Regions from separate parts of the Homo sapiens genome. Here region 1 is linked to region 2. The links come from fine-mapping of genetic effects on gene expression. A gene starts in region 2. The other region holds a variant in brackets. All regions are shown on one strand. Distances are from middle to middle.

Region 1 (8,293 bases), 33 kb after region 2:
CAAGAGACTGAATCCTGAATGAGAAGAAAGTACTGCTAAAACTAAAAACATTTTTCTTTTTCCCTCAGTTGTGGAATAAACTAGTTTTCAGTGGTTGAAAGCAAAAATCCACATCTTGTTCTATCTTGATAGTCTTAGAAGTGCCTAGGGAAAGAAGTAAGAAATGTTCATTTTAGATTTCTGTAACCTCAGTAGTTTGCTGGTAGCAAACATTTCTTTTTGTGTCTAGCAAGAATAGGGTCTTGTGGACTCCATTCTCAAGAATGGAAAGATTAAGTGGTTTTTTCTCCTTCATCTTATAAGTGTTATTAAATTATAAACTTTTAAAATAAAAGAACAGTGCTCTTTTTAAAAATACACGAGACCTTTCTGCATTGGTTTGCTTAAGCAGGATGGACAAGGACTGGCATCTTCCAATCCCCATTTACTTTTCTAAGATCGTGAATCGAAACTTTGGGAAGAATAACTATGTTGTTCAAAATATTCTTAACAGTGTTTGGGGATAAAGATTACCTTTGGATACGGAAGCCCAGGTAACCCCTTTTGTATTGTGATTTGTTTTCTAGACTTTGAAACTGGATATACAAATACACCCTGAATCAAGCTTTTTAGTTAATTCCCATCAGCAGTCACTATACGAGTTAATATAGAGACAGCCATAGTGGAACCGAAGTCTGTGTACATAGGATTAAACCTGCAGATGATTATCACTTTACCTAGATAATGCCTAACTGTTAGTGCAGGTGTGAGAGATGGATTGTCAAAAAATCAACAGTTGAACCTCAGACTTCATTGTACTGAACCTTTCTTCTTCTACCAGTTTTTACTGAGCTGAAGAGTGACATAAGTCCAAGTGGACAAACCCTAGGATGAGGAATGAGAGCAAGGGGAGTGTTGGGTACCAGCTAGTATCACAGGGAAGAGTGTTTGGAGTTGTTTGTGTAAAGGATACCCATCATGCACTTCTAACTAGTGAGGGAGAACTCCAGGGTCTCCCACCTTGATCAATACAACCCTTAATTTCTTCTAACTTTCTATAGAAGACAAGCCTCTTAGGAAGGCTGCAGTTTCATCAGTTTGGAAGCAGGAATAGGGATTATTCCTTAGTGATCTGACCTCGTAGGGATTTGCCCAGTCTTCACTGTGTGAATCTCAAGGTTAATTACTTATGCCTAAATTAACATGGTAGAAAGCACACTGCTTAAGCCAGAGAGCTCTTCCTAACTGAGGAATGGTTGGAATCTTTATTAAACAATCTGAATTCCTTTTCCCTTTGGGTTCCAAACAAGTTTTCTGAAGCCATTACAGACCTTTTGGGTGGTCCCTCCAGATGAGTGGCAGAGATGTTGTGAGCAGTGTACACTTCTCCCCGGGGGTAAGGCTGTGAGTCTGCCCTAGCTGTGGCATCTGGGATGCAAGCAGGTACAGTACCAACACTGAGGGCACCCGGTGCTTCACTCAAAGGAGGGAGAAGCTCTTAATCTGTTATACAGACCTTTTGCTCTTAAGTATTTTAAAATAGAGAAATGTTTCTGTGCTGATAAATGCAGTATCTTAGTTGTATTAGAGTGGATTAAAATGGAAAACAATGTCCTACTTATACTCTGAATAGGGTGGATAATAATGTTCTATGAGGTGATCACCAGCTAATACACTAAATCTTTGTTGTTACAGAATTCTGCACAGCCATGGGTCCCGGACTCTTATTTTCCCCCATCTGTTCTCAATACGTTTTTGAAATTGAAACTCACCCTTTTTTTAAATCAAAAACATTGCCAGACCATTTAGTCCTCTTGGAAGGGCCTCTCCGGTGGGGCTTCAGTCCTGTTAAAGATGGTTACCAGACATCACCAGGTTGAATGCTGGGACTGGTGTACCGTGAGAAGAGTGGAAAGTAAAGAGGCTGGCTTTGAAAATGTGTCTTCTCAAAGGCTGCCCCTACTCCCTATTGCCATTCAGCTGCATTCCATCATCCTCTTCCTCACTGGTCGCTTTTTATACCACCTCAAAAGGGGGCTGAGCTCTGGGACCAGGAACTGAGACGCCTCTGGACACGCACCAGCAGCAGCGGGTGCAGTGAGGGCTGGCTAGCTTCTCCCCAGTCTCCTTAAACACCCAGCCACGGCCAGGGGCTTGTTGAGGTTAATGAGTTTCTGTTTAGTCTGCTTCTAGTCTTGTGTATTTTCTCTGGAGTGTTGTTTTTGCAGTGCAGGGTGAGTCGGTGTGGGTGTTTGAATGCTGCTGTTTGCTGTTTTTTAAAGGCCTTCTAGCCCTCCCATGGGGTTACTGCAGCAGGAATTCTTACCTGTGCTTCAGCCCAGCATACAGACTGCTGACAGGTACCAAGTGGAATCAACGCCCGCTCATAGTGTGCTGTTTGTCAACATGTTCGCTGCCCATGGTTCTCAGCTCTTCGTTCCTCAGTGCTCTTTTTCATGCTTTCTTTCTTTTTTAATTTGTTCCGCATTTTGGCAAACCATCTGGTTGTAATATTGTAACATTTCTTATTTTTTTTCCATAAGTTGCCAGTGTGTTTGTGTTCGATTTAAAAATCATTATGGATCTGGAAAAAACAATGAAAGCTATATAAATCTGTATTCAATTAAGTGCACATTAGCTTAGGTGCACCATGATTCTCTTTTGATAAAACGTTAAGGCTTTCGGTCATATATATTTAAGGATGCTGACGTTTATTTTAAGTACATTTTTATTTGTGGATACTCATATGAGTGACCAGTCATTATGGTCATATTAGCAATTAGTTGCCTGGTATCTAAATAGGCACTAATGTGTTTTTTTTCCTGCTACTGATGTTTTTTCAGACCTTACCTTTCTGAATTGAAAATATTTGATAGGCTAAAATGCCACATTTATTAGCTGGTTTATCCTGTTCTTAAACCACAAAAGCTTACTAATTCTCTTTTTCATCCAAACTTACCAAAGTGATAGTGCTTCTAATAGAAATATAATTGAATTGTGCCACTCTTTATATATGGAGATAATACAAATTGGACCCTGATCTGCAGGATGTAGCATTTAGTTATATTTTTAGTGGTATTAAAAGCAGGGTTTATTAGCCAGGCCTGGTGGCATATGCCTGTAATCCCAGCTACTCGGGAGGCTGAGGCACAAGAATTGCTTGAACCCAGGAGGCAGAGGTGGCAGTGAGCTGAGATCATTGCCACTGCACTTCAGCCTGGGTGACACAGCAAGATAGCAAGATGCCATCTCAAAAAAAAAAAAA[G/A]AAAGAAAGAAAGAAAAAAAAAGGAGGGTTTGCCCTTTAGCTAACTGTCTGCAAGTGCCAGTAACCTCCGCTTGGTCAGAGGGTCAGCTCCAGTTTGAGGCTGCAGCCTGGGACCCAGAAGAGCAGTATCTCAGGGCAGCATAAATGGTTTGCATCTATCCTAGCGGGACCTCACCGATGCTATGTCCTAACTACTGAGCTACCCATCCAGATTTGACGAGAGATAGTCACAAAGAAGTGTGCATTTACCCCACGGCCCTGCTGTTTTCCCCTGTAGTTCTTTAAAACATCCATGGGCATTAGAAGGTTCTGTGATAGCTTTACTTATCTAACAAAGCTGGATTTTTTTTTTCTTTTCATCTGTTGTTTTACAATTTGGTGACTCCTGTTGTCCTTATTTGATATGATCATTAATACAAGTTTTTAAAAACAGAAACATTTTAGAGTAATTTTAACACTTTTATCTTGCCCAGAACATAAAAAAATCTTCATTTTCAATCCTTATAACTTTGTGTGAGGGAAATTAGGCATCAGGGTGGGAAACAGAGGTGACTTTTATTTGTCTAAGTCTACCAAATTGCTGAACTAGTAGGTAAAACTCCCTTCCTCTTAACTGAGCTGACTGATTTTTGCTAGATTTTTCTTTTCGTTTCTTCATTTTGTTTCTTCCGTTTCCTGGGATTTCATGTGTGATTTCTTTTTCTAAAGCACAACCTTTGGGGTGTAGTTAAGAGACATTTTTCCCTGTGTCCCCACCACCCCTTCCACACATGTGCAGGTCTCCCCTGAGTGCCCAGACAGCGCAGGACCACGCAGTCCACTCCCTCTGCCCCTCAGAGATTCTGCCTCTCTCTCCTGACCTGTGCCACATTCTTGTGTCAGGACCCCACCTCCCGCTGCGTTTTCTTCAACATATGAGAGTCTAGATGGGCACAGCATTTAGAGGAGCTGCCCTATTCTGGTGTCCTGGGGAGAGAGACGTGCTTGTGACCCCGGCTGTGCAGGAGCCCTGAACCTTTCTGGGAGCACCAGCTGCGGGGGCCATGGTGGGAGCTCACTTGGGTGATTGGCTCATTCAGGTCTCCTCCCTCCTTGCTGCTGCCTCTGGAGGGTCTGCTGGCCGGGCTGGACATGAGCTCTTTGTAGCCAGTGTGGACTGGACCCATTTGGCCCTAAGTAACTGAATTGTGTACCAGTCAGCAGTAGGGATGCATAACACCAGAGCTTCATTGATTCAAAGGCAAAGCAGGTGGCATTTTACTGAACAATTAAATGTTTGAAGTAACCTTTTATAGAGTGAGAAAGATGTCTGTCTAGTTTTAAGTCTTTCTGAAGAGAAATGGGCTGGAATGTTTGGTTGGTTGCAGCTATTCTTGTGTTCTTTTTAAAATATCTGAAATTATACTTAGATATGGGGCAGGCTTTATTCCTACCCAAGTAGCAGCGATCAGCGATGCTGGTGCTAACCCCTGGTCTTTGTCTGTTTCCCTATTGCTGACCTCAGGCACCACACTGTAACTCGAGGCATCACCAAAGGCGTGAAGGAGGACTTTCGCCTGGCCATGGAGCGCCAGGTCTCCCGCTGTGGAGAGAATCTGATGGTGGTTCTGCACAGGTTCTGCATTAATGAGAAGATCTTGCTCCTTCAGACTCTGACCTGAGTGGAGACCTTTCCACCAGACACAGCTCGGGCCTGTGTAATTGTAGGAGAAGACACTCAGCAGTGATTGCCATGGCACAGAGCCGTGGTCATTGTTGCTGTTACAAAGAAGAAAACCATCTGAGTTCTAACTCCTTGGTTGCTTAAAAGTAGTTCCCAAGAGTCTGAGAAGCTATTTCTATTTTTAAGAGTCATTTTTTGTAATTTTTGTAAAACAAAAGTACCAATCTGTTTTGTAAATAAAAATCATCCTAAAATTTGAAGTTTTTAAAAATTTAATTCTTATGAGTTTTTGAACAGGGGTGCATTTTTCTTCTTTTCTAAGCATATAGCAAGGGGGAAAATCCAGCATAATTGAATTGAGTAATGAATTTTACTAATATAGATACTTACTTAAAAGACATATGTCTTCCATGACCTTAAGATTTTATTTTCCATAGTTAGGCTTTGGTCGGTATTGCATATCAACATAATATTAGACGTTTTCATTCAGGTGATCTCTTTTTTAGAAACAAGGTCTCACTCTACACCCAGGTTAGAGTGCAGTGGCACGATCATAACTCACTGCAGCCTCAAACTCCTGGCCTCAAGCAATCCTCCTGCCTCCAACCTCCCAAGTAGCTGGGACTACAAGTATACACCACCATGCTCAGCTATTTTTTTTTAATTTTATGTAGAGACAGGGTCTCACTATGTTACTCAGGTGGGTCTCAAACATCTGGCCTCCAGCAATCCCACCTCAGCCTCCCAAAGTGTTGGTATAACAGGCATGAGCCACCATACCTGGCCTCATTCGGGAAGTTTTAACACCAAAAACATTTATGTAAAAATGAATTTGAGCCTGACCTCTCCCACTGATGGTCCCCTGAAGGAGAGGTGCTCAGGGCTGCTGAAAAGCCCAGGACAGGAAGTGGAGGTGAGAGGCAAGGTGTGGCAGAGCAGCCTCCCCATTGCTGTCTGGCTCCAGGAAGTCCCTGCTGCTGTGCCAGGGTGGCCCAGTGGTTTCTACCCAGGGGCTTTGGAGCCAGGTGGCCTTGTGTGGCTTTGCATCCTGGCTTTGCCCTGCCCTTACTTGCTATGTGACCGTGGACAAGGTAACTTCTGTGTGCCTCAAGCTCTTTGTCTGAAAACGGAGCTGAGTGGTCCTCCCCTTGCTGGTTATTGGGAGGATGAAATGTTGCTCCACGTGAAATGCTTGGGAGAGGGCCTTGAGTGTAGTTAGTGCTGGCCAACATTAGCTATTAGGCTAATTTTTTTTTTTAATTAGGCTAATTTTATTTTCCTTTTGCTCTTCATGAAATTATACAGAAGACAAACATCAATAAAATTTGTTTCAAGGGAGTATTTAAGAATGAAAGAGCTAAGAAGTTTTGCAGTTACTCTGCATAAAAGGTCTTAGAAATCTTTTCTAAATAAAGATCCTTTTTATAGCTATATTAAAATCAATAAGATGGTTTAAATAAGAGACATCTGATCTCAAAAATATCAACTAGCTTGTTTTGCAGTGTTTATTAGTGTAATATGAGTTTATTACAAATATATAAGCTATCCTTTTTTTAGTGATGGGATGTGCTGCCACCTAAAAGCTCCCAAATTAAACACTCTCACCTTTAGGTTTTCTAACACTATTAGGGTTCTTCAGAGGGACCGAACTATTGGATAGATGTATATATGAAAGGGAGTTTGTTAAGGAGAATTAGCTGACATGATCAGAAGGTGAAGCTCCACAGCAGGCCGTCTGCGAGCCAAGGAAGAAGGAAGCCCACAGTGGCTCAGTCCAAGTCCAAAAGCCTCAAAAGCAGGGAGGCCAACAGTGCATCCTTCAGTCTGTGGCCAAAGGCCCGAGAGCCCATGACCAACCACTGGTGTAAGTCCAAGAGTCCAAAGGCCAAAGAACCTGGAGTCTGATGTCCAAAGGCAGGAAGCATCCAGCACGGGAGAAAGATGAAAGCCAGAAGACTCAGCAAGTCAGCTTATCCCACCTTCCGCCTACTTTGTTCTACCCTCGCTGGTGTCTACCCAGCTTGAGGGTGGGTCTTTCTCTCCCGATCCATTGACTCAAATGTTAATCTCCTCTGGCAAAAGCCTCACAGACACACCCAGAAACAATACCAGCTATCTAGGCATCCTTCAATGCAATCAAGTTGACACCTAATATTAACCATCACGAACAGCTTCCTCAGCTCAGTGTTTCAGGAGCAGTGCACATCACAACAAGACTTTCTAATACCCCAAAATGTAGGTACTAGCTAAAAGAGGATTAACCATCTTTTTTAAAATTCAGTGGTGCCACTTCTCTGTGAAGAGGCTGCAGGGAAAGGGCCACAGAATAAAATGGAAACTCAGACTGAATTTGCAGAAAAAGAAGGAGCTGGGAGAAAACTGCAGACCTCTCAGCACATAATGGCTCCATCCAAATCGCTGCACTAAGAGACCTGACCAAACTCTAGCTTGGCTACCAGCAGCTTAAGGCCATGACCCCAGTCCCGCTTAAAATGCCTGCCTGAGAAAGCTCCATGCTACCAAAATTTATTCCAGACCAAACCAGGTGATAGGCAGATAGGCCCCTGGACTCTCGCTTAGAATAGTTACTTTAAAAAGGTTGCAATTACACATCCTTTGCCCTTTGAGATGCAAAGTGACCCCCCAGAGCTGTTTTCTCAAGAACCCAAGAGCTGGCTTTTTGAAATCCATTCAGGGAATCAACTCTTGCTCCCAGTCCCTGTGACAGGGAACATTTGAGCTGGGTTTGGACCACTGTAACATTTAGACTCCTACAGGAGATGTACTGTTGCCATGGCAATCCTGCTCCCTAACAAAGGAACTGCAGGCTCAGGCTTTTGGTGTCTGCTTGTCTGAGTAACGAATGAGGCAAAGCTACCATCGGGATGACCTTAAGGCAGGCAGAAGATACAGCGGTGCATAGGAGGCTTGACTGACCTTGGATATCTCGTCCCAGACATTCCCCTCACCTGGCAGCGGGGTGCACCCTGCGTGCACAGCATCCTCCTCCTACGCTTAGGTCCATCTGGATGTAGAGTCCCTCCTGGGAAAAGGGGAACTGCCAGAAAGAGACACCTGCCCCTCACTCGTCACCAAATGCAGGTTCCTGGGGAAAATGATGCTAGTAAGACCTGCCTCTGGGTTTCCTAAGCAGCAGAACAGCTCCCTCGCTGCAATCCATTGAAAGTCAGTCCTGGACACCAGGGTTTGTCCACCCATATGGAGGCTCCAAGCATCTATGCATCCATCCCTCTCGATCCCTAGGACTTCGGACCCGGAGCCACACTGTGGGGCGGCAGTGATCAGGTACCCTCCTGGCAACCCGACTCAATGCCCCGCCTCCTCGCCACCCTGCCAGGATGCACCCTGGGCTGGGACAAAGTTGG
Region 2 (8,266 bases):
ACAGGCCAGGCGTGTTAGCTCATGCCTGTAATCCCAGCACTTCGGGAGGCTGAGGTGAGCGCATCACTTGAGGTCAGCAGTTCCAGAGCAGCCTGTCCATCATGGTGAAACTCTGTCTCTACTAAAATTCAAAAATTAGCCCGGTGTGTTGGCGCAAGGCTGTAGTCCCAGATACTCGGGAGGTTGAGCCAGAAGAATCACTTGAGCCTGGGAGGCAGAGGTTGCAGTGAGCTGAGGTCATGCCACTGCACTCCAGCCTGGGTGACAGAGCGAGACTCCCTCTCAAAAAAAAAAAAAAAAAAAAAAAAAAAAGAATACTTATCTGGGCCCATTGTGCTGGCTCATACCTGTAATCCCATCACTTTGGGAGGCCTATGCAGGAGGATTGCTTGAGCTTAGGAGTTCAAGACCAACCTAGGCAATATTATCAGACCCTATTGCTACAAAAAATTAAAAAATTAGCCAAGTGTGGTGGCACACGCCTGTAGTCCCAGCTACTTGGGAGGCTAAGCTGGGAGGATTGCTTGGGCCTGGAAGTTGAAGCTGCAGTGAGCCATGATCGTGCCACTGCACTCCAGCCTGAGTGACAGAGAAAGACACTGTTTAAAAACAACACAACGCAAAACAAAACAAAAACACATATATGACCAGATGTACAGTCTTGAAAGATAAATAGGGCTGTGGTATTCAAACTTGGAGTTTAAGGGCCGGGTGCGGTGGGTCATACCCGTAATGCCAGCAGTTTGGGATGCTGAGGAGGGTGGATGGCTTGAGGCCAGGAGTTTGAGACCAGCCTGGCCAACATGGCGAAAACTTGTCTGTACTAAAAACACAATAATTAGCCGTGTGTGGTGGCTTGTGCCTGTAATCTCAGCTACTCGGTAGGCTGAGGCACAAGAATGACTTGAACCGAGGATGAGGAGGTTGCAGTAAGCTGAGATTGCGCCACAGCACTCCAGCCTGGACGAGAGAGCAAGACTCTGTCTCAAAAAAAAAAAAAAAAATAGTGGATACAGTGGCAGGATAAGAAGGCAAAGACATGAACATATTGAATGTCTGAGCACAGGGTTTAGCATGAGTGGGAGAGGAATAAGCCCAAAGGGTGGCAGATGCACTTAGGGGAAAATGTAGGTGTCAAGGGGATAGAGGCCCATGAAGGTAAAATCAGGGAGAAGGGAAAGGAGGAAATTATTAAAAAGAACCAAGGAGAGAGTTGAGGGCAGGGAAGTTAAGAGGTTATGTGAGGAAACTTGGAGTTTGAAGATTTTGAAGTGGAAGGGGAAAAGCAATGTAGAGTTTAATTCAGATCACTGAACTGAGCTCACGGAAATTGAAGCCGGGTGCTGGATGCAGGGCATTTTATGTGACTTAGAAGTTGTCAAGGGCCGGCGTGGTGGTTCACACCTGTAATCCCAGCACTTTGGAAGGCCGAGGTGGGTGGATCACGAGGTCAGCAGTTCAAGACCAGCGTGATCAACATGGTGAAACCCCGTCTCTACTGAAAATACAAAAAAAAAATTAGCTGGGCATGGTGGCTGGCGCCTGTAATCTCAGCGACTTGGGATGCTGAGGCAGTAGAATCACTCGAAACCGGAAGGCAGAGGTTGCAGTGAGCTGAGATTGTGCCACTGCACTCTAGCCTGGACAATAAGAGCAAAACTCGTCTTTAAAAAAAAAAAAAAAAAAGTTGTCATGGAGAAGAACATGAGCTAGGCGCCTCAAGTCTCCAGTGAGTCAAGATCATGGCAAGGAGGCCAAAAGATGTAAACTCACTTGGTGTGTTACCTCCCTTCTGTACTTTGAGATGCCAGCATAACACTGTAGGAGAAATGTTTAGCTGGGGACCATTCAAAATCAAGAAGCTGACTAGAAAATAACCACAAACCTTACGTTGTATTCTGGCAAAAAGTCTAGAGGCCCTCTCAAGGTTGGCATCTAAAATACATACAGAGGCTGGGCGCAATGGCTCATGCCTGTAATCCGAGCACTTTGGGAGGCTGAAGCAGGAGGATCACTTGAGCCCAGGAGTTCAAGAACTGCCTGAGCAACATAGGGAGACTGTGTCTCTACAAAAAAATTTAAAATTAGCCAGATGTGGTGGCACACACCTGTAGTCCCAGCTACTCCACAGGCTGAGACAGGAGGATGGCTTGAGCCTGGGAGGTCAAGGCTGCAGTGATCCATGATCGAGCTGCTGCACTCACTGGCAGTCTGGATTTCAGAGCAAGACTGTGTCTCAAAAACAAACAAACAAACAAAAACAGAATTTCCTTATTTAGCCTCTAAATTTAAAATCTTAATTTACAATTGTTATTCCACAGAACACTAGGCTCAGGAACAAGTGTGGAGTTGTTTTTTTATTTTTGGTAAAGACCAAAACCAGAAAGTTTAATGACCAAATCAGTCATTTTTACCATTTGAAAATTCTTACACTTCATATATTAACATCAATGAAATAATTTTAACAATTCAAGCTAGCAATCTGCTTTTATGCTGTACACTTTATAACATAAAAATTATCCTACTCCGTTTAAATCCAATTTTCTACCATCTTCTATTCTACAAACCCAAAATAACTGTATCACTGAGTAATCCTGGCCCATAAAGTAATCATACAGTTATGCTGTTCTGTGCATAAGTAGGAGATATTAAACAGTGCTTCGAAGCCCAGCACGGTGGCTCATGCCTGTAATTTCAGCACTTTTGGGAGGCGAAGGAGGGCGGATCACCTGGGGTCGGGAGTTCCAGACCAGCCTGGCCAACATGGTGAAACCCCGTCTCTACTAAAAATACAAAAATTGGCCGGGCTAGCGCGTCGTGGTGGACGCCTGTAATCCCAGCCACTCGAGAGGCTGAGGCAAGAGAATCTCTTAGATGGAGAATCTCCTAGATGTTTTTCATCTCTTAGATGGAAAACAAATCTGGAGTTTTGGTGAAAAGGACATTGATTGTGGCTGGAGGAGATAATTATAATAATAGCGTAGTTATCTTTCTGTGGGTTTCACGTCCAGAACATTTAAAACATATAAAACCCTTGCTGGGTCAGGGTTTTAGTCATCTTTGCAGCTCCCACGGACGGCATCCACCAAAGCGCTTTCCAAGTACTTCGTTGCTCAATAAACGTTTGTTGGAGAAACCGGTGCATAAAGGTGAAATAATAAAACGTGGACGGATTTCGGAAAGAGAAGGAACCCCGGAGCTCACGCTTTGCACGATCACCCCCACCAGCCCCAGGAGTTTTCGCGTAAATCGAAGCCCGGGGAGTGAGTCGCAGGCAGCGGCCCCCGGGGAAGGTGTTTCAGGCCGGCCCGGGTGGAGAGTGCTTCCCGCCGCCTCCCCGACCCTCTGCTGTTCCTCTCAAACTTCTTCTCAACCTTCCACGCCGGGGGGACGCCCAGGGACCGCCCATTCCCCGGGACCGCCCGTCTCCCCGCCCCCGCCTCCGCCCCCGCCCCCGACAAACTGAGCAATACCCAGAGAGGATGGAAATGGCGAAGAGGCCTGGCGCCTGCCCGCTCCCGCGCATGCTCCCTGACTTCACCAAGGTCACGCTGCAGCCCGCAGGAATGAAAATCCACTTCTCCGCATTTTCGAGGTGACCTGGAAGCGGTTCAACTGCTCTGGCTTCTCAGAAGAGGAGGGGACCGGGCGGTAACGAGGAGCCAAGGGGAGGAGACTGCTCGCAAAACCCGGAAAAGCTTTCCCGATCCACTCTGCCAGCCTCCGTGCGCCTCCAGACATGCGCAGTAGCCTCCCCCGCGGTGGCGGCGGCGGCGGCGGTGGCTGCCGTGGCGGCTGAGAGTCCAGAGCCGGACGTTCCGGCCGCTTCGGGCTGGCGGCTGGAGAGCGCTCGGGTCATGTCTGCCCAGGGGGACTGCGAGTTCCTGGTGCAGCGAGCCCGGGAGTTGGTGCCGCAAGACCTGTGGGCAGCCAAGGCGTGGCTGATCACGGCCCGCAGCCTCTACCCGGCAGACTTTAACATCCAGGTGAGGTCCCGGCTGTGCATGCGGCCGCTCTGCGTGGAGGTGCGCGCTCCCGTCGCCCGGGCTGCCCTGGCCCAGAGCTGCGCCTGCCTGGGGGCTGCCGCCTCCTGCCCGGCCCCCTGCTTTCTCCCCTCCCACCCCCTCCTCTCTCCCCTCCCATCCTACACCTTGCTCCTACACCTTTCACCCGCCTTGCTCCTACACCTTCCAGGAGCCCTCTCCCCAGCACTTGAGAGACGGCCGATCCCGCTTGAGGTCGGGTGTGCTTAGGTCCCTGGGGCTCAGCGTGCCATCTGGCCTAGACAGCACATGATCGCCACTAGCAAAAGGCCATTCGCTCCTTCATTCATCATAATGGCAGCAGTTTGTTCAGGGCCTGCGACTTTGGAAATATTATCCTACTTAATCCTGGGAGCCTGAGATTGCAGGTGAACCCCAGGGTCACACTCTAAGCCCAATGGCAAGTCTGCCATGTATGTGGCGCTGTGTCACCAGGCGGAGCTTCACTCTCAGGCCCTCCCTTCCTGCAGGAGGGCCAACGAGCGATGCTGGATGAGCTGGGAGCCTTCTGGGCAGGGGTGAGTGACCAGGGTGCCTGATGTGTGTTGCAGTATGAGATGTACACCATCGAGCGGAATGCAGAGCGGACCGCCACCGCCGGGAGGCTGCTGTACGACATGTGAGTGGGACGCTTGACATCACTTTTACTGCACTGAATCTCTCCATGAGGTTTTGTTTCTCTCTGCAGAAGTGGGAGTTGGGGGAAGATCTTCAAGTTCATCTATATCTTCGATACCTAAAGCAAACCTAGTAAGGAGTCCAGGCCTGCCATAAATTGCTGACATGGCTTTTGCAGAAGAGTTTAATTATTATTCTTATGTTTTATCCTTGTTAAAACTTCTGTTTCATAATTTATTCTAGAAATAATATGTGCTCATTACAAAAATTCAAACACTACTTGTTATAGAGAACAAAAAGTGAAAGTGCATCCTAAACTGAACCAGAGTTAAGTTTTGTAGGCAGTATATCTATACATGTATGCATAATACATAAATAAGGTTTTGGGGGGAAGGGGTTACAAAAGTGAGAAGACCATACTACCTTTGCCCTGCAGCATGTTTCCTTTACTCACTCTCATGGACCCCTTCCCATATCAGTATGTAGAGATCCACTTCATTCCTTTTCATGCCTGTGTAGTATTTCGTAGACACTCTCTTCTTGGTAGACATTTAAATAGATAGTTTTAAATTATTTGAAATTATATTCAGTGTGTCAACAATTTTGTAGTCATATTTTGGTGTTTTTCTGTGGAATAGATTCTAAGACATTTTCATAGTCAAAGTTTATGCGCATTTGAAAATTTGATACGCTATGAAATTACTCTCCAAAATGTGCGATCCCAGTCTACATTACCACCAATGGTGTATAAAGAGTGTGTTTTCCCATACCCTTCCCAACACTGGATATTATTAGTCTCTTTTTAGTTCTTGTCACTGTGATAGGAGAAAATGGTATCTTGCTATTTTAAAAAAAAATTTGTACTACTCATACTGTTAATAAGATTCAGTATTGTTTCAACTGTTCTCTTTGGCTGTGTGTATTCTGTGATTTGCCTTTGCCTATTTTTTCTTTCAAATAGTTTGTTTTATTCTTGTTGACTTTTAGAAGCTCTTTCTATGTTATGGTTACTTGTCTTTTCACCTATAAAACCCACTAAAGACTTATGTGAGTACTCTCATTTTTATAAATCAAGTAATTCTTATTTTTACATTTTTATTTTGGTTTGTTTTGGCACGTCTAAGCATTCACTTGGAATAAAGGAAACTTTTTCACCAAATGCTAACGTTTTTTCTTTTGGATACTGTATAGACTTTGACATTTTAATTTAATGTATTTATTTTAAAAATAGGTTTGTGAATTTCCCAGACCAGCCGGTGGTGTGGAGAGAAATCAGCATTATTACATCAGCATTAAGGAACGATTCACAGGACAAACAAACCCAATTTTTAAGAAGTAAGAATAATGGTGTATAAGTTACCATTTCGGGAATACCAAATCATATATAGTAATTTCACACACAAAAAAGTCACACCTGGGGTATTGGTAACCATATGTATGTTTTATTCTTGGCAACCAAAGTCTATAATAATGTCACTCGGTTCCTTGACTTGCTTAGAACCCTTTAAGCTTCTTTAAAGGATATGGATTTATCAGTGAGACGAGGAATTAATTGTATATATTTTTAACAGGTTTTACAATAACCAGATAGCAGCTATAGATTAACCAGCTCTCCACAAAACAGGAGAGAAGCTTTTAGTAATTTAGAAGCTTTCTCTTTAAACTTCTGTATGTTGCTGTAGTCAATCAAAGATTTCAAACTCTAGATAAAATAGCAAGTAGATGCATAGGTCATTTGAACTTCAACAAGCACATGCTCTCTATCTCAACCTGCAACAGGCATTCTTGTGACCATTCACATACATCATTGTTTTTTGAATTTGATCAGTCTTGCAAATATTTTACCATTATTCAGCAAACATCCTGTGCCAGATACTATTGGCTCCAAAAGGCTGCCAGGTTGTAGGTGAAACTTAACTGCATTGATTTCACATGTAGTGTTTACTGTTCTGTACATGAAAATGCCTTACTCAGCACTGTTGCTGCAGTCTTTTCTGTCCGCAAGAAACTTTTAAAAGTGAAATATGTTTCGTACAGGTTTATTTGAAACTCTTCCTGGTCGGGTCCAGTGTGAAATGTTACTAAAGGTCACGGAACAATGCTTCAACACGTTAGAACGATCAGAAATGTTGCTTCTACTTTTGAGGCGCTTCCCTGAAACGGTGGTGCAGCATGGGGTGAGATTTGATTCTTCCCCTTCTTTTAATATAAAATACAATGGGTCATCAACAGATTCATCGGTATGGTGAGGAGCTACAAAGCAGAAGTTTCTGAAGAGTACTGGTTAAGATTGAACTGAAATAGAAGGTTCTTTGTTAGTAAAGCTAAAAGGACATTCTTTTCACCATATTTTGTAAGTTTCCAGGAGAAGCTGTTTTATCAGGAAAATCACCAAGCTCTGACAGTACTGTTTATTGCAATCCATATGGTAAAAAGTAATCTTTTTCCGTTGTATTCTACAATGTGCTTTTGAATTTAGCGTAGAGTTTATAGTCTTAACAGATGCGTTTTTCCTGTGCTTCTGCCCTATGGAGACTATTTTCATTCTATTCCTGCCCCTTTCCTTCATCTGTAATAATTATCGAGTGCTATTGGCAGGCATGGGAAAGTGCTAGGTATCTCCTATCTTCCTAAATCCCCTGAAGTAAATAGTATCCCACTTTACAGATGACGAAACTGAGCATTTTGTGTTTTAGTAACTTCCCATAGCCAGTGAGGTGTCAGGTTTCAAACCATTCACTCCATTCGTTCATACTCTGCGGCTTATTTCCCATGCCATTTTCTGGCGTCTGGCCCGGGTTAATCATTTCCATACCTGCTTGTGTTAGTCTCCTAGGGTTGCCATAACAAAGTACTACAAACTGGGTAGCTTAAAACAACAGAAGGACTCCCACAATTCTGGAAGCTAGAAGTCTAAAAGTCAGGTGTTGGCAGAGGCACTTTCCCTCTGAAGGTTCTGGGGAAGAATCTTTCTTTACCTCTCCCTGGCTTCTGATGGTTGTCAGCAATCTTTGGCATTCCCTGGCAGGCAGCTTCATCACTCCTCCAATTTCTGCTCCATCACCACATGATCTTCTTTCTTTTGTGCCTTTGTCTTTACATGGCCTTTTTTGTCGTTGTTTTTTGAGGCAGAGTCTTGCTCCGTTGCCCAGGCAGCAGTGCAGTGGCATGATCTTGGCTCACTGCATCCTCTGCCTCCTGGGTTCTACCAATTCTCATGCCACAGCCTCCTGAGTAGCTGGGATTACAGGTGTGTGTACATGGCCATGTTATAAGGACACTAGTCATTGGATTGAGGGCCTTTCTAATCCACCATGACCTCATCTTAATTAATTATATCTACAAAGATACTTTTTTTAAAAAAAAAGGTAAGATGTCTATGAGGTCACATTCTGAGGTTCTGCGGGGATATGAATTTGGGGGGGCACTGTTCAGCCCAGCACACTTTCTGGTCATAACTCTGACCTTTCACCTTCTGTGTGATGTAATCTTTCGCACTTTTCCACTCCTGTGGTGCATCCCTGTGTGGTCACAAGGAAGTTGATACCAGTGTCTTGGTGGATTTGAGTAAGGGACCGTCTACTATGCTAAGGCATTGGTAATGG

Direction of the effects. Alleles are on the strand shown, and positions count from the first base shown. SD is a standard deviation of normalised expression in the study named.
With allele G in place of A in region 1, the expression in monocytes after interferon gamma of the gene that starts at base 3,736 in region 2 is lower (small effect, 0.38 SD a copy in Fairfax 2014).

The links.
Region 1: its variant is fine-mapped to the expression of INTS10 in monocytes after interferon gamma (Fairfax 2014, PIP 0.95).

Annotation. Positions count from the first base shown.
Region 1 is chr8:19,846,901-19,855,193 of GRCh38, forward strand. INTS10 (integrator complex subunit 10) reads left to right here. Exons shown (of 17, transcript NM_018142.4): 17 at 4,749-5,167. The coding sequence ends at 4,905. It overlaps LOC124901901 (a long non-coding RNA gene), which reads left to right and starts at 6,997. Exons shown (of 2, transcript XR_007060843.1): 1 at 6,997-8,213. The variant G/A (reference allele first, on the strand shown) is at 3,245.
Region 2 is chr8:19,813,681-19,821,946 of GRCh38, forward strand. It overlaps INTS10 (integrator complex subunit 10), which reads left to right and starts at 3,736. Exons shown (of 17, transcript NM_018142.4): 1 at 3,736-3,986; 2 at 4,595-4,662; 3 at 5,893-5,996; 4 at 6,699-6,838. The coding sequence starts at 3,858. RefSeq lists silencers at 3,317-3,456, 3,977-4,106 and enhancers at 3,607-3,686, 3,727-3,786, 4,287-4,376, 4,587-4,676.